3 linked regions of the Homo sapiens genome follow. The protein of the gene in region 2 interacts with the protein of the main gene of each other region in a biochemical or structural test. Each region holds a gene or a part of one and is shown on either strand. Other genes may lie near its edges.

Region 1 (3,797 bases), on a different chromosome or scaffold from region 2:
AGTACTCAAACCATAAAGAAGTGGCCTATGGAAATGAGCTTTAAGCCACATTCCATGAACCGAAGGGCCTCTGAGCTGGGAGTGGATAGTGGGCACAGCCAGCCCCAGCTCTCCCTCTCAGTTGAGCCAAAGCATCTGTGCTCATTTGTTTTTAGATTTCTTAAAGGATTTCATTTGAAAGAAAAAAGAAACAAGTCCATGAGACCACTGTCCTGTGAACGTGAACTACTTTCTATTTGGGTAGGTAGGAAGAAGTGAGGATAGTTGCAAAGTTATAATTTCATTCCCCTTCCCCACCCAGAAAAATAGAACTGAGAGTCTTAAAACATGGAATCTGGCTGTAGCTTGGCCACAGTTACCTATGTCTCTTTAGCATAGCCTCCTGGATCTCAGCTTTATCTCTAAGAAAATGATATAGATTAGTCACATGGTCCTTCTAATTGCCTGAAATCCCACTATAAATTTCTAGCACCTGTCACGCAATAGGTACTTAAGAAATGTTGGTGATGGTGTTTGAACTGAGGCTCCACTCTGATGAAACTGTAAAGCTCACCTTCCAGCCTGGTAGGTTGTCACCTGTGTAATATAAAGCTGGTTCTTTGAGGGCAAAAGGGGATTCTACTTGAATGTAGCTGCAGCCTTATGTACAGCAACTACCATAATGCAGTTTGTATACCGCAGGCCCCATGTGGAGACACATACTGGATGGGTTCTTTCTCGTATGTTACATGGGAATGCCGACAGCTGTGTTTTAATTGTGTTTGACCTATGTTTTCGTTGTAGGGAAGCAGAAATGAGAAACAGTATCTTAGCCCAAGTTCTGGATCAGTCGGCCCGGGCCAGGTGTAAGCATCTTTGATTTCATTTCCATAAAGTTAGCTTGAGTTAGTTGAATGGGGTGATTAGATACCATTATTGCTATCACTAGATGAAATATTTGCTTAGGCTGAAAACACTTGAGATGTGTAAGAAGTGTGAAGTTTATAAACCTAGAGAACTGTACTTTAATCCCTAGTAAAAGTACCAGGTCACTTCTCTTACCAAGATGTTCTCCAGGTGTGTATTAGGTAAGATTTATAGGAAACAACTCATAGGGCCAATCACAAAATGTTGCTGGTAGTTGACATTTTGTGTCAACTGGTGATGGGGACTGGGGATGGGGGACTTAGGGGCTTTTTATATGTATTGTCAGTTTTAGTGTATGTTCAGAGTTGTTCATCATAAAAACCAAAACCTGTAGAAAGAAAAAATGAGACAGTCAGAATGAACTGGTATTTTCTGTATTTTAACTGGAAGCCCAGTTTGAGTGTAGAAAAGGCGGCCACAGGTGGATCACCACCATTATGTGTAATAGATAAACCGCTTTCCAGAGGGCAGTCATATATTTTAAGAAACAGGAAGCATGGTGCTTAGAATCTGAGAACCCAACTTTAATCTTGGCTGGGCCACTACCCCCATGTGCCCATGTGGAGATTGGCATGGGTGAACTTCAGTTTTCTCATTTTTAAGAGGAGTAACAATACTGTCTTGCCCTACACTGAGGGACAAGCTTGTGAAGTGCTTTGGAAAGGTCAATGCATAGTTTTAAGGTATAACATAAGTGCATTTGATTTTAATGGATTTTTTGCATATGTATTTTTTCTTTTTAGTAAGTAACTTAGCACTTGTAAAGCCTGAAAAAACTAAAGCAGTAGAGAATTACCTTATACAGATGGCAAGATATGGACAACTAAGTGAGAAGGTAAGCTTAGACAGCCTTGAGGAACTTTACTGTTACCTGCTTTATCAAAACATGGCTTCAAAAGGTCAGCTGCATCTTCACTGGATTACAGAATTCTTGCTGACTCTCAGAAGAAATTGTTGGAGAGAATAGTCATACCTACTTTAAAAGAGAATAAATTGCCTTTCCTAAATTCCTCTGCTTCGCTCCTTTCCTGGCGTTGCTCTGGAACCTTGTTGGTGTCTGTGACCCAATGACTGTTAGGGTCAGCTAGCTTCAATTGCCCCTGCACTGGAAGCAAGGTTTGTCAGTAACACCAATTAAAATACTACCAGTGTAAGTAGAAGGTGTGTTTTGCAGATGAGAAGGTGCTAAGATGCCTTGCTTATGTTCTCTGTGTTGCTGTAATACCATGAGGGGTATGTTGTGGCAAACCTGGCCTTTGAGATCAAGACGAACCCCACCTGCCCTGAGAAGCCGTCTGCTACCACCACAGCCTACCCGAATTGGTCCTGTCCCCTAAACCCCTCACACTGAGAACTGCTTGTGTGGGAGAGAGCTGGTTGGGTTGATCTTTTCCGAGTGTGACTTACCTCCTTCAAGGGGATGTTTAAGCTTCTCGGGCAGAAGTGGTGTGTCTATTCCTGACACCAAACACCGTGGTATATGTGGTTGTCACACTCAGCTAGTGATGATAAAGGTGTTCTTAAATATGTTAGCTTTCAGTTTTCCTGAGGAAGCAATTTTATGGATACTTCCCCCTCCTTCTCAAGTGAGGAATAGCAGAGCAAATTTTATTTGGAACTTAAACCAATAGTTATAACCAATAGTTTCAACCTCCTGCCTCACCACTGCTTCCTTCCTGAGCTCTTTCCCCACACCTCAAAAAGAGTACAAAGTGATTCCATCTGCAGAGGTAAATTCTTTGTTTAAAAAAGTACTGTTTTTCTTATCTTTTCTGGTTCTCCTAGGTATCAGAACAAGGTTTAATAGAAATCCTTAAAAAAGTAAGCCAACAAACAGAAAAGACAACAACAGTGAAAGTAAGTGTCCCCAGATGCTTGTGGCAAATGAAAAGATGGATACTTTAAAGATTAATGTTGAGTATACATCTACCACACATATTTTTCAGCCCAGAGACATTTTCCTTTTGTCAAACACGTGAAAGTTTGGGGAGAAAGGCTGAATCTGTTGGGGGAGGGTTCTAATTTTTATAGGCTCTTGACTCCATTCCCACCCTTTTAGTTCACGCTAAGTTGCTTTAAAGACACAAATGTCTTGCTAAAATTGGTAGAAATCTTTTCTCGGAAAATCTGAGTTATGCTTTATTAGAAATGTTCTGACACTCATTTAATTTTCCTCCCAGTTCAACAGAAGAAAAGTAATGGACTCTGATGAAGATGACGATTATTGAACTACAAGTGCTCACAGACTAGAACTTAACGGAACAAGTCTAGGACAGAAGTTAAGATCTGATTATTTACTTTGTTTATTGTCTATATGCCTTTTAAAAAAATAAACTTGTTATGCAAAATAAAACATTTGGGTAAGTTGTTTTAGTATCATAGCCAAGTGGCCAGATCTGTGTTTTGAATTTTTCCCCTTCCTACCAAAAGCTTTTTTTATTTTTATTTTTGTTATTATACTTTAAGTTTTAGGGTACATGTGCACAATGTGCAGGTTAGTTACATATGTATACATGTGCCATGCTGGTGCGCTGCACCCACTAACTTGTCATCTAGCATTAGGTATATCTCCCAATGCTATCCCTCCCCCCTCCCCCCACCCCACAAGAGTCCCCAGAGTGTGATGTTCCCCTTCCTGTGTCCATGTGTTCTCATTGTTCAGTTCCCACCTATGAGTGAGAATATGCGGTGTTTGGTTTTTTGTTCTTGCGATAGTTTACTGAGAATGATGATTTCCAATTTCATCCATGTCCCTACAAAGGACATGAACTCATCATTTTTTATGGCTGCATAGTATTCCATGGTGTATATGTGCCACATTTTCTTAATCCAGTCTATCATTGTGGGACATTTGGGTTGGTTCCAAGTCTTCGCTATTGTGAATAGTGCCG
Region 2 (7,033 bases):
AGGCTGAGGCAGGAGAATCGCTTGAACCCGGGAGGCGGAGGTTGTGGTGAGCCAAGATCGCACCATTGCACTCCAGCCTGGGCAATAAGAGCAAAACTCTGTCTCAAGGAAAAAAAAAAAAAAGAAAAAAAGAAACACAGTCATTAAGGCTAGCACCTGAGAGGAGGTGCCACCTGACCAAAGGATTAAAACACCAAGACCTCCAAAAATGCTTGTTAACTGGATGAGAAATGAAGTCACTTCTGCCACGAAGTACCAGGAATGCCTGGAGCCCAGCAATGAATTCAGTAGAGCTAAAGTTCTGGGTAGTACTAGGCAGGTAAGCAGGGAGGACCAGGAAGAAAGATGAACTCATATTAACTGAATACCTGCCCCATGCCAGATGCAAAGGGTGACCTCGTTTAATTTTCCTGACCACAGCCCAGGTGGCAGGAAACATTACCCTCACTTTACAAAGGCAGAAAGGAGGCCAGACACGGTGGCTCACGCCTGTAATCCCAGCACTTTGGGAGGCCAAGGCGGAAGGATCATCTGAGGTTAGGAGTTTAAGACCAGCCTGGCCGACATGGCGAAGCCTTGTCTCTACTGAAAATACAAAAAATTAGCAGGGCGTGGTGGCGTGTGCCTGTAATCCCAGTTACTTGGGAGGCTGAGACAGGAGAATCGCTTGAACTCGGGAGGTGGAGGTTGCAGTGAGCCGAGATGGCACCATTGCACCCCAGCCAGCCTGGGCAACAGAGCAAGACTATGTCTCAAAAACAAAAACAAAAACAAAACAAAAAACAAAAAAACAAAGGCAGAAAGAGAAAGGAGCTGGAGTTTGGATACCAGCAAAGCCTAGTGTAGAGGCAACAGGGAAGGCCCCCACGAGCCACAGCATGGAGGACATACCTTGCAGCCCATCCACAGAATATCCTGGTTTGTCTCTAAACATGAAAGAGACCTGAATAGGCCCCTCGCACTGCAGGGTTTGGGTCCTGGGGCAGTCAAACTGGCATCCAGGCTTGGATCTAGAGGCTGGACTGCTAGCCACCCACTGGCTTTGTCATCAGCAGCCTGAGGAGTTTGGGCTCTGGCCCTTCTCTTTCTCCTTTTGGGGAGAAAATGTTGCTCAGGAAGGGCTAGTAGGGGTGGGGGGTAGGGGATAGCTCAGCCATAGATAAGTTTAAGCTCCAACAATGCCCTGGCCTGAGGAGATTGTGAACCTTGCAAACTCATCGCTGAGCCTATGGGAAAATCCCTCCATATCTTTGAGCCTCCACAAAAAGGCTGAGTAAAGCTCCCTAACACCAGAGGATCCCAGGAGCTGAGGCAAGATTCTGTAACCTAGTGGTCTAAGGGCCCAAGTGAAGTTGGAGCAGGCTGTGGAACCCAACTGACTTAGGTTCCAATCTAGCTCCACCAATTATTAGCCATGTGATGATGAACTGCTCTGAGCCACAGTTTTCCAATCTGTGAATGGGGATACCAAGCCTCCCAATAATAGGGATGCTGGGCAGACTCAAATATTACAGGGCTTTGCCCAGTAAGAGACCACTTAATGAGTTCCCTTCCCTTCCCCAGGAGGGAAAAAAGCCTCTCTAGTAGGCTGATTAATAGCCACGCAAAGATATCAAACCCTAACCCCCCTGGAACTTGTAAATGTTACCTTATAATGAAAAAGGTAGGGCCAGGCGTCGTGGCTCATGCCTGCAATCCCAGCACTTTGGGAGGCTAAGGCAGGCAGATCGCTTTGAGCTCAAGAGTTCAAGACTAGCCTGGGCAACATGGTGAAATCTCATCTCTACAAAAAATACAGGCCAGGTACGGTGATTCACGCCTGTAATCGCGGCACTCTGGGAGGCCGAGGCGGGTGGATCACCTGAGGTCAGGAGTTCGAGACCAGCCTGGCCAACATGGTGAAACCCTATCTCTACTAAAAATACAAAAATTAGCTGGTCATGGTAGCAGGCGCCTGTAATCCCAACTACTCAGGAGGCTGAGGCAGGAGAATCGCTGGAACCTGGGAGGCGAAGGTTGCAGTGAGCCGAGATAGCACCACTGCACTCCAGCCTGGGTGACACAGCGAGACTCCATCTCAAAAACAAATAAATAAACACCAAAAATTAACCGGGCATGGTGGCTCGCACCTGTGGTCCCAGCTACTCAGGAGGCTGAGGCTGGAGGATCACTTGAGTCCAGGAAGTGGAGGGTGCAGTGAGCCAAGATTACGCCACTGCACTCCAGCCTGGGTGACAGAGGCCAGCACTGTCTGAAAAGAAAAGAAAAGCCCGGGCACAGTGGCTCATGCCTGTAATCCCAGCACTTTGGGAGGCCGAGGCGGGTGGATCAACTAAGGTCAGGAGTTTGAAACCAGCCTGGCCAACATGGCAAAACCCCATCTCTACTAAAAATACAAAAATTAGCCAGGTGTGGTGGTGGGCGCCTGCAATCCCAGCTACTCAGGAGGGTGAGGCAGGAGAATAGCTTGAACCCAGGAGGCGGAGGTTGCGGTGAGCCGAGACTGCGCCTGGGTGACAGAGTGAGATTCCACCTCAAAAAAAAAAAAAAAAAGAGAAGAGAAAAGAAAAAAAGTGTTTGCAGATGTAATTAACTTACATTATTAAATCTGGAGATGGGGGGTTATCTTAGAGTATCAGGTAGGACCTAAATGCAATCACAAGTGTCCTTATAAAAGAGAGACAGAGGGAAATTTGATACAGACAGAAAAGGAAACCACATATACAGAGAAGGCGATGGTGAAGATGGAGGCAGAGATTAGAATGATGCAGTCATAAACCAAGGAATGTTGGCAGCCACGAGAGGCTAGAGAAGGTCTAAATTCTCCCTGAGAGCTTCCAGAAGGAGTGTGGCCCTGCCAACACTTTGATTTGGATGCAGTGAAACTGATTGTGGACTTCTGGCCTCCAGAATTGTGACAGAATAAACTTCTCTCTCTCTTTTTTTTTTTTTTTTTTTTTTTGAGATGGAGTCTCGCTCTGTCACCCAGGCTGGAGTGCAGTGGCGCAATCTCAGCTTACTGCAACCCCCACCTCACTGCAACCTCCAATCCGTCTCCTGGGTTCAAGCAATTCTCTGCCTCAGCCTCCCGAGTAGCTGGGATTACAGGCACCCACCACCACACCCAGCTAATTTTTATATTTTTAGTAGAGATGGGGTTTTACTATCTTGGCCAGGCTGGTCTTGAACTCCTGACCTCGTGATCCACCCGCCTCGGCCTCCCAAAGTGCTGGGATTACAGGGGTGAGCCACCGCACCCGGCCAACTTCTGTTGTTTTAAACCACCCAGTCTGTGGTAACATTTGTCACAACAGCCACAGGAAACTAACACACCCCCCTTGGTAGCACTCCTTGGTGTCTGTTCCCTAGTGCCTCACAGGTGTGAGACAATATGGCATGGATCCCGCTCTGCAAGGTCCACCTGCCTACCATCCTCCAGGGTGGGAGGTTAGAATTAAGGCAGCAGGGGCCTGGAATCTCCCTTCTCACCCTGGGAAACTACTGACCCTGCCTATGGATGGATGAGCTGCCACTGAAGTGGGGGTGGGGTGGGGGGGCAAAAGATGGCAGCAGCAGTGGCAGTTCATGGACAGATGTCTTCCCAGAGCCTATGGTCAAAAGGTGTTTAGCATTCTGTGACTCACAGCTCTGTCCCAGCAGCCCTGGTGCCAAGACCACCCCCTCCAGCAAAGCACCCAGGAACACTAGCCTGGCTCCATGGACAAAACACAGGGGGCCAGGCGTGGTGGCTCACGCCTGTAATCCCAGCACTTTGGGAGGCCGAGGTGGGCGGATCACGAAGTCAGGAGATCGAGATCATCCTGGCTAACACAGTGAATCCCTGTCTCTACTAAAAATACAAAAATATTAGCCAGACGAGGTGGCAGGCACCTGTAGTTCCAGCTACTCGGGAGGCTGAGGCAGGAGAATGGTGTGAACCTGGGAGGTGGAGGTTGCAGTGAGCCAAGATCGCGCCACTACACTCCAGCCTGGGGGACAGAGTGAGACTCCATCTCAAAAAAAAACACACACAGGCAACCCATCCAACGAGGAACATAGACACACTACTCTCTAAGGACCAACACAAGCCCTCCAGGGCAGAAGGGGAGAAGAGCAAGGCCCCAACATTTGGCTAGGCCACTGAGGGCAGGGGGATTAAAAACCTCTAAGATTGGCAGGGTGCGGTGACTCACACCTGTAATCCCAGCACTTTGGGAGGCCAAGGCAGGCAGATCACCTGAGGTCAGGAGTTCAGGAGACCAGCTTTGCCAACATGGTGAAACCCCATCTCTACTAAATATACAAAAATTAGCCGGGTGTGGTGGCAGATGCCTGTAGCCCCAGCTACTTGGGAGGCTGAGGCAGGAGAATCACTTGAACCCGGAAGCCGGAGGTTGCAGCGACCTGAGATTGCGCCACTGCACTCCAGCCTGGGCAGCAGAGCAAGACTCCACCTTAAAAAAAAAACAAAAACAAAAACAAAAACCAAAAAACAAAAAAACCCAAGGTCCTGTTATTCAGTAATAGAAAGGAATGAAGCACTGATGTATGCTACAACATGGATAAGCCTTGAACATATTATGCTAAGTGAAAAAAGCCAAGTAACAAACAACTGCATATTCTATTATTCCATTTACATGAAACATCCAGAACAGACAAATCAATCAAGCCAGAAAGTAGATTAGTGGTTGCCAGAGGCTGGAAAGGGATGAGGAAATTGGGGGATCATAGCTAAAGAGTGCTGGATTTCTCTTTAAGGTGATGAAAATGTTCTAAAATGGACTGTAGTGATGTGATGGACGCACAAATCTGTGAATATACTAAAAGCCACTGAACTGTACACTTCAAAGAGGTGAATAGTATGGTACATGAATTACATCTCATTAAAGTTGTTAAAAGAAACACACCCAAGGGCTCAGCACCAGCCAAGGACGCTGAACACTGCTTGAAATGTCCTAGCACAATCCCCAAAGGCCAAGGGGTCCCACTTAAAACTTTCATGAAGGGTGAGGGGAGTGGGAGCAGGGAGGAGACTATAACTTGCTTCAGAGCAATGAGTCCAACCTCCCTCCTCAACACTACCCATTTCATGGAGGGAGAAACCAAGAACCAGAAAAGAGAACTGCCTGAAGACCACAGAAAAGCTTACTGCAGAAACAGGACTCAAATCCACGTTGCCTGGGCAGAGACCCCTTCCTGCTTCCCCACCAGCTAGCTACCCAATTCCAGTTGGGGTAAGAAGAGCCCAAGAAATCAGCAGGTTCCTAGATGCCAAATGAAGGGCCTTTGCTATCAAAGATAGGTTACTAGGAGTGGACAAAGGCTCCTAGGAAGAACCAAGATGACCCTGGGGCAAACTGCCCATTCTGGGCAAGAGGAAGAACCGGCCAAGGTCCAAGGTGTGCAAGGTCAGACACACCTGGGCATGGACAAACTTTTGCAAAATGGGCAGCTGAGGGGGCAAGTAGTTTGCCTAAAGCTATAAAGCAGGTAAGGAGGAGATGCTGAGGTCTGGAGGTGATGAGAGAATTGAGGGATGATGGCTCAAAGCTTGCCTTGCTCCAAAGCCCAAACTCCACACACAACTCTACCTCTCTACACCACTATCCAACAGGCCTCCTGACAGGAAATCCCATCGAGCTTGTTCATTACAACATGGCTGCCCACAAAAAATGGCTGTTCATCAACCCTGAGCCTCACACAAAACAGGCTGCTTGTCCTGCCCACCAAGCTTGGATGGCTGAGAGGGAACAGAGGAGCCAGGAAGAGAGGGGAGAAACCCAGTTCCTCCTCAAAAGACATCCACCATTCTTTGCCACCTCCAGGTCCAGAGAACTTTGGACTGAGTTCCCTAAAATCCCAAAGCTAAACAACACCTCACCAGCATTTTGCCTGGCCAGTGAGGAAACTGAGGCCCAGAGAGCATAGGTAGAACCTACCCTGGTTCATCCAGCAAAGCCTTGAAAGACCCAGAGTTGGAACCCAGGCACCAACTACCGTGCCACACCCAGCTTTTTCCACCACCTCAGTTCACATGCCCCTTCTCAAAGAGCTCTGTGGGGTCTCCAAACTCAGGATGCTTACAGGCCAACCTTTTCATAGAGCAGACTCTCAGCAAGGCAGCCATGCCTGGGAACCCCTGACATCACCACCCACCCAGCACCTGGACCCCAGAGTGCCAAAAAGACTCCTAAAGGAAGTAGGGATACAAGAGAATCAGGACAAAGAGGAAGCCCAAGTAGTCAGAACCCCAGAATCGCCATCTAGACTCCCCCTCAACGACGCCTCTCTTCCCAAGGGATCCAACTGACCTCCAGGCTACAACCACCCCTAGTGACAGTTTAGGACCAAGACTGGGGTGGCAGGAGGAATCTTCCCTCTTCTCATCCCCAAAAGCTCTCAAGTTGGACCAGGTGAGGCAGGGAGAAGAGGATCACCTTCTTTGTCCTAAGAAGTGTGGGGACAGAAAGCCTCTCCTGTCATTGGGAAGGGCAGGTTTCATGAACCCACAAAACTTGATTTTCATATTCTTTTTTTTTTATTAGTAAAGATGAGGTCTCGCTATGTTGCCAAGCAGGTCTTGAACTCCAGGGCTCAAGTGATCCTCCCGCCTCAGCCTCCCGAGTAGCTGGGACTACAGGCATGCGCCACTATGCCCGGCTTACTCTTATGTTCTTATGGGGACAAGTATAAGGGAGGGACTGCAAGGGGCATAAGGAAGTGTTTTTGAGTTACCATGGCAGCATAGGATGTTCTTTCTCTCTGTCCCTGGGACCAGGGATGTATCGCAAGGGAGGGGAGTAAGGAGGTGTTTTTGAATTATCATGGCTGCATAGGATGTTTTTCCTCTGTCCCTAGGACCAGTGATGTATGGCTCCCTGCTTCTAGAGGAGGAAAGAAACTACCCAACCAGAGAGAGAAGAAATAACTGGTCCTGACCCTTGAGTACAAATGGCTTATCGTGCCAGAATTAATGATGGGAGGAAGGGACCAAGAACAAGGAGCTCAAGACAAGGCTTGGGGCCCCTGTGAA
Region 3 (6,939 bases), on a different chromosome or scaffold from region 2:
AGATGAAAATACGCTTATTCTAGTTAATTAAAAGGTTCCAGAAAACCAGTCTCTTTTGGAAACAGATTTTTCTCAAGTGACAGGTTGATCCTATTACAAGTAGGTATGCAAAAAGGAGCCCTCCTTTTGAAAGGGAAACACAGAACAGCTCCTGCCACAAATCAGCTACTTCAAAACTTAGGATATGTGCCTATCTTAAATGCTGCCTTCACAAATCTCAAAAGGCAAGACATGTTTACCGCTACTAGATACAACCATATAGCTCTTTATAATTTCACCTACGGCACCTTTCTATTTTTCAAATATCTGCCACCTTGATGCACATGTTATGACTCAAGTCTACTTTTTTCCTAATTTCATGAAATTAAAAGTCACTATGATCTAAATATTTTTAATGTTGTATAATGATAGAAGAATCAAACAAAGCTGATTGTTTATACTAGGAATGGAAAAAGAAGAGTTAGCATTTAAAAAGATACATTACTTGTAAATTTCTCAAATAGCTGAAGCAAAAGGAATGCTCAAAAATGAATCAAAGTGCCCAACACAACCGCAAAATAGGTTTTGGCATGCACAGCCAACTGAGTAAGCTAGTCAGGTTTCTTGGTACATAAAGTTAGGACTAATATAGAAAACATGCCCTACCTCTCTTCTCTCTGGTGCGGTTTTCTAAGTAACAAGACAAGCACTACCAACATGGTTCTGTTAATGACCGTAGAGCTATCCTCACTACTAGCCTGTTTCTAAATTTTACCAAAAAATTTTATGTTAATGTCTCCAAAAGATCTTTAATGAAGTAAAGTCAGGCTAAGAACCACATAACAAAATGTTAAATAACTAAAAAGTTATTTCAGAATTTAAAGGAACTATGTGACAACTCTGAGTAGTTAGTATTTTCAGTAAGTATTTCAAAAGATTCCCAAACATGTTAAATACAATATGGCTACAGCAAAGATTAGGCAAATCCGAACCAAGTGCAGAAACTAAACCGCCAGCTCTGGATTTAAAAGCTGTCTGCTCCACTTGAGGCGGTTAGATACACTGACACAAGAGGCCAGTATCTCAGCAGCAAGTTAGGCCTCTTCCTCCCTCTGGGAAGCGCATGACAAACAGGGCATCATGCAACTTAAGTCACCCGGTCACTTAGCAAAAATTCTATGTAACTTCTAAACTTGGGACCAGATGGCCTTCTATACGCAAAAGAAATGTAGAGAGCAGTGAAGTACTGGGAGAGAGGAAGACTTAAAATGCTCCACTTTGTGATCCTGTAAACATTTAGCCCATCATTAGATCTGAGTCTTAGATTCTAAGACATGCTTTAATGGAGGCCTCCCTCAACCTCCTGAGTCTGTTTTCCAACAGTGAAGGAACTTTTCCTGCCTTATCTCAGTTCCCTGAGAGCATGCGGCACTGCAATTCAATATCCTAAACTGGCAAGGAACGGTGGCGGAAGAAAAGGAGAAATCCAAACCAAAACAGCCTATAAAAGACAAAACATAAAATAAAATCATAATTCATCCTCCGCCCATAGCAAACCCAACCCAGAAATTTACAGCGTGTTAAGAAAAGCAGCATTGCGAACTGCAAACGTAAGAGTTTTCCTTTGACACTCTACGCACGGTTTTCAGCTGTCAAATTACAACTCAGGAAAACACTATCATTAGAATAGAAAAGGAAACAAAAAAGCTCGCACCACAGGGGCTAGTAGCAGGAGCTGCCAGCACCATTTCAGGAGGAGAGTAAAGGGAATCCAATGCACTTCCCCACCCCCGCTTGAATCCATCCCCTCCCGGGGCAGGCAAACCTCACTGCAGGGGCTCAAATTTAATAATAATAACAATAATCATGGCGCTTCCTCCCTCACTCCCTCCCCCAACTATCACCTTCCCCCCACCCCCCGCCCGCTCCCAGCAATCTGCCGGGAATCGGCTTCTCTCCCCAACCCGACCCCGGGATCCCCAGGTCCAGACCACCCCACCGGACACAGCTGCCGGGGGCCCGGGACAAGCCCAGCCCAGCCCACCCCGGGGCCCCTGGCCCCGCTTCTCCTCTTCCCTCTCTTTTTACCTCCACCATCCCCCATCCGCATTGTCTGTCTCAATTCAACTTTGACTAATATGGATTCCTCGGGCCTTGGCCGGGCAGTAATTACCGCCTGCCCCCCGGGAGCCAGAAACCACCCCCCCATCTCCGCCGAGTTCAACGCCGCTCCTTGCGGGAGGGGGAAGGGGGTTTACAGAGCGCTCTCCAGTCTACACCGCGAGTCCCGTCTACACCGCGCTCCCCCCGCGGCCCCCTGCCCCCGGGATGAGAAGTTTGCCCCGGAAGGAGCCTAGCAGGAGGCAGTAAGGACCCCCGCACCCCACCCCAGCTGGCCGGCCGGCGCGTAAACACCCGCACCCGCCCGGCACGGCCCGTGGGGGAGGGGAGGGAGGGAAGGGCGCCCCTCCCCCCGCGCCCGCCGACCCGCCAGCCCTATTACCTGTCATTGAGCTGGTCCTCGGTGCCCGGCAGCGGGTGAACCACGAAATGGATGGACGTCATGGTGCTTTCCTTCTCGTCCTCCACTCGAGGGCGGCCCCCTCCCGCTCTCGCCCGCCCCCCAGCCCTCTACCCCTCCCCAAAACCCACAGCCGCCGCCGCCTCCCAGTCCCCAAATGGAGGGAAGCAAATACGCAGGGGCCGCCGCCGCCTCCCTGCCGGGCGTGTGTCCGCGGCCCGGAGGGGCGGGCAGGAGGGCGAATCCACACGCCACCCGCTCCCCCGGCGACAGCGCGGAGTGCGAGGCAGGCGGCCGGGACCAGGGGCGCGCCGCCGGCCAGCGGCAGACGGGCGTTGGGAGAGGGGCGGCCGGGGGAGGAGAGGGGCGGCTGCTGGCTGCGGGCTACGGGGACGGTCTGGTCCCGGCGGCGGACGGGGTCCGGACTAGGGGAGGTGAGGAAGGAGGGGAAGGAGATGAGCCCGCACCGCGCGTCACTAGCGAGAAGCTGCCGCCGCCATCTTCACTTCTGCCCCAGTTTCTCCGTCTCGCAGGCTCCGCTCCGGAGCGGCGGGGGAGGGGCAAACGGGAGGAGGAGGAGGGAGGAGACCGGCGGGCGGGGGCGCGGCGGCGAGAGGCGGGGCTCCGGGAAACGGGCGGCAAGGCCCCCTCGATTGGGCTGCTCAACGTTGTCGGGCCACGACGCTGTAAGGCGCGTGCCGATTGGTCCGTTCGGCTCCCGAGCCCAGCCCCGCCGGGGGTGGGATGTCTCCAGAGTGAGTGTTCCGGAGAGCACGTGTTAGGGAAGGAGGAGGCTGCGGGCTAACCTGCCGGGAGGGAGGGTAAGTGTGTGTCCCAGAGGAGGCGAGGAGGAAGAGGGGCTCTTGTGTTCTTTCGCTCGGATTCCCCTGGGGCAGCCCTAATTATTTGGCGGATCCTTAGGGGTTTCTTGTTGCTTCTCATCCTTCATCCGCAGTTGTATTTATGGTGAAGTTGGTAAAATCAGTTAAGGGGCAAGACATATACAGCCTTTTATTGGAAAAGTAAGGAAATTATGTAAGGGCCTTTCCAGAAGGAGATAGTAGGATCCTGGAGTTGGCTTTGCAGCAACTTCTATTACCTCGGTCTCCCCAGTTTCCTCACCACCATCACATGCCCAAAGACAAAATGTGGAAATTTCCACTAATTTCCTGATATAAATGATTCGTGATTTTTTATTACTTTTAAATGAAAGATGATAAACCTGTTCTACAAAGGAGTTCAATTTATGATCAGTGGAATCAGAACGGAAAATTATTATTTTTTTTTTTTTTTTCCCCGAGACGGAGTTTCGCTCTTGTTGCCCAGGCTGGAGTGCAATGGCGCGGTCTCGGCTCACCTCAACCTCCGCCTCCCGGGTTCAAGCGATTTTCCTGTCTCAGTCTATGGAGTAGCTGGGATTACAGGCATGTGTCACCACGTCCGGCTAATTTTGTATTTCTTTTTTAGTAGAGATGTGGTTTCACCATGTTGGCCAGGCTGGTCTCGAACTCCTGACCTCAGGTGATCCACCCGCCTCGGCCTCCCAAAGTGCTGGGATTACAGGCCTGAGCCACCACGCCTGGCCGAGATAGGATCTTTTATACCGAGTTTCTACTATAAGACACTTTCAGAGTTTTGGCCACGGCGCACAGTGGCTCACGCCTGTAATCCCAGCACTTTGGAAGGCCGAGGATGTCGGATCACCTGAGGTTGGGAGTTCGAGACCAGCCTAGCCAACTTGGTGAAACCCCATCTCTACTAAAAATGCAAAAATTAGCCAGGCATGGCTGTGCGCGCCTGTAAACCCCACTACTCAGGAAGCTGAGGCAGAAGACTTGCTTGAACCTGGCAAGTTGCAGTGAGCTGAGATCATGCCACTGCACTCCAGCCCGGGCAACAGAACGAGACTCCATCTCAAAAAAAAATTTTTTTTAATCAAATAAGTCTGTTTTTTTTTCCCTAAGGAACCAATTCATGACTTTCTTCTCAAAGGTTTCTATGACCTCCTTTAAAAAATAAAGTACCTCTTCGAAGGCAAAAACTGAGAACATGACATTCCTTCTACAGAGGTGGTCTGTTAATGAATTACACACACACACACACAGTTTTGCTTAGGAAGTTCTTCTGAGCAAAATTTATGAAAAAATACTTACAAATCAGGACAGACCTGGTACCCTCAAGGCAGATAATGGAACACTTTTGTAGGTTACCAGCTCAACCATTGGCCCAGATTAGTTTAGACTAAAAAGTGATTTCAAGGTCACTATTAGATGTCCCTGGGAGCCCTGAGGAAGGAAGGTAGACCAGTAGACACTGCTAGATTTCAAGCCAAACAGATCTAAAAAAAATTTTTTTTTTTTGAGACGGAGTCTTTGCTCTGTCGCCCAGGCTGGAGTGCAATGGCACGATCTTGGCTCACTGCCACCTCCGCCTCCTGGGTTCAAGTGATTCTCCTGCCTCAGCCTCCCGAGTAGCTGGGATTACAGGCGCTGCCACCATGCCTGGGTAATTTTTGTATTTTTAGTAGAGACAAGGTTTCACCATGTTGGCCAGGTTGGTCTCGAACTCCTGACCTCAGGTGATCCACCCACCTCGGCCTCCCAAAGTGTTGGGATTACAGGCGTGAGCCACTGCGCCCAGCCCAGATCTAAATTTCAGTTGTTTCTGCTACTTAACTACGTGGCCTTACTTGGATTTAGATTAGTTAGATTTGGCCGGGTGCACTGGCTCACGCCCATAATCCCAGCACTTTGGGAGGCCGAGGTGGGTGGATCACCTGAGGTCAGGAGTTTGAGACCAGCCTGGCCAACATGGTGAAACCCTGTCTCTACTAAAAATACAAAAATTAGCCAGGAGTGTTGGTGTGGCTGTAGTCCCAGCTACTCCAGAGGCTGAGGCAGGAGAATTGCTTGCTCGAACCCGGGAGGTGGAGGTTGCAGTGAGCCAAGATTGTGCCACTGCACTCCAGCCTGGGCGACAGAATGAGAATCTGTCTTAAAAAAAAATTAGTTAGATTTAACCTATCATTGCATCTTTTTTCCTCATTTGTTAAATATTCCATACTAATAGATCTATCTACACAGAGTTGCAGTGAGATCTAAATAAGATAATGTATGTCAGACACCTAGGACAGTTCATATACATAGTAGGCTCAGCAAATGGAAACATTTACTTGTCTGGTGCTATGTTCCAGTTTTTTTTTTTGTTTTTGTTTTTGTTTTTGTTTTTTTGAGGCAGGATTTCACTCCCATCACCCAGGCTGGAGTGCAGTGACATGGCCTCGGCTCACTGCAACCTCCACCTAGCAGGCTCAAGCAATTCTCCTGCACTGGCCTCCCGAGTAGCTGGGTCTACAGGCACAGGCTACCACGCCTGGCTAATTTTTGTATTTTTTGTAAAGGCGGGGTTTTGCCATGTTGCTCAGGCTGGTCTTGATCTCCTGGGCTCAAGCGATCGACCCACCTCGGCCTCCCATCTATGTTCAACTTTTACACCTTATACCTTTTAATACTTGAATCACACTATAGGGTAAATTATAATATCCCTGTTATCTAGATGAGGACACTGGGGCTCAAACACCTGAGGTAAGGACTGAAGCTGATACTGAAACCCCGGTCTTCTGACTTGGATTCCATTGTTCTTTCCACTATACCACTGCTGCCATCTAGAAGTTAATAATTTAGAAGGAACAGACTATTCAAAGCCAATAGAGAAAAAAATTATATGATAAATGGAAGAAGAGTAATGTGGAGGTTGAAGGAGGAAGTGATTCCAGCCAAGAGAATTAAGAAAAGTCACTCAAGCTGAGCTTTCTTTTTTTTTTTTTTTTTTTTTTGAGACGGAGTTTCAACCTTGTTGCCCAGGCTGGAGTGCAGTGGCGCAATCTTGGCTCACTGCAACCTCCGCCTCCCAGATTCAAGCAATTCTCTTGCCTCAGCCTCCTGGGTGGCTAGGATTACAGGTGCCCGCCACAACACCCGGCTAATTTTTTGTATTTTTAGTAGAGACAGGGTTTCACCATGTTGTCCGGGCTGGTCTCGAACTCCTGACCTCAGGTGATCCACCCTCTTCAGCCTCCCAAAGTGCTGGGATTACAGGCTTGAGTCACCACGCCCAGCCAAGCTGAGCTTTCAAGAATGTTCTGAGCAAATAGAATACCTGGCTTAAATCTAATCTTTTTAGAATTGCCCCCAAACAGATCACACCATACCCATAGTTTGCCTTGCTTCTCTTTCTTCCAAATATCTCCTTTGTCTTTTCATTATGCTTTTATCCTGCTTTCAACTCGATTCACCCATTCCTAGTTTCCTAGGACTGAGACTTTTTCTCCTGGTTGAAAGTTGGTCTGCTTCCTCTAGACAGCCTATTGGGAAACTGCCTCTCTGGTCTTTGATAATCATCTTGGCTTTGCTACCTTTTTGTTGTCCCAGATGGCATAT

Evidence for each region. Proteins that work in one complex are often made in the same cells at the same time.
Region 1: the proteins of OTUD5 (region 2) and PDCD5 form a complex in vitro, tested with the Homo sapiens proteins (one study listed by BioGRID).
Region 3: the proteins of OTUD5 (region 2) and UBR5 form a complex in vitro, tested with the Homo sapiens proteins (2 studies listed by BioGRID, with this or other methods).

What each region holds. Positions count from the first base shown.
Region 1 is NC_000019.10:32,584,167-32,587,963, forward strand, and holds the end of PDCD5 (programmed cell death protein 5), read left to right. Parts: intron 1-783; coding exon 784-845; intron 846-1,649; coding exon 1,650-1,741; coding exon of another isoform or gene 1,742-1,873; exon of another isoform or gene 1,874-2,691; coding exon 2,692-2,763; intron 2,764-3,086; coding exon 3,087-3,134; 3' UTR 3,135-3,287; downstream 3,288-3,797. UniProt on the Homo sapiens protein: May function in the process of apoptosis.
Region 2 is NC_000023.11:48,947,599-48,954,631, forward strand, and holds part of OTUD5 (OTU domain-containing protein 5), read right to left. Parts: intron 1-7,033. UniProt on the Homo sapiens protein: Deubiquitinating enzyme that functions as a negative regulator of the innate immune system. Has peptidase activity towards 'Lys-48'- and 'Lys-63'-linked polyubiquitin chains. Can also cleave 'Lys-11'-linked ubiquitin chains (in vitro).
Region 3 is NC_000008.11:102,409,691-102,416,629, forward strand, and holds the start of UBR5 (E3 ubiquitin-protein ligase UBR5), read right to left. Parts: upstream 3,011-6,939; 5' UTR 2,545-3,010; coding exon 2,483-2,544; intron 1-2,482. UniProt on the Homo sapiens protein: E3 ubiquitin-protein ligase involved in different protein quality control pathways in the cytoplasm and nucleus. Mainly acts as a ubiquitin chain elongator that extends pre-ubiquitinated substrates.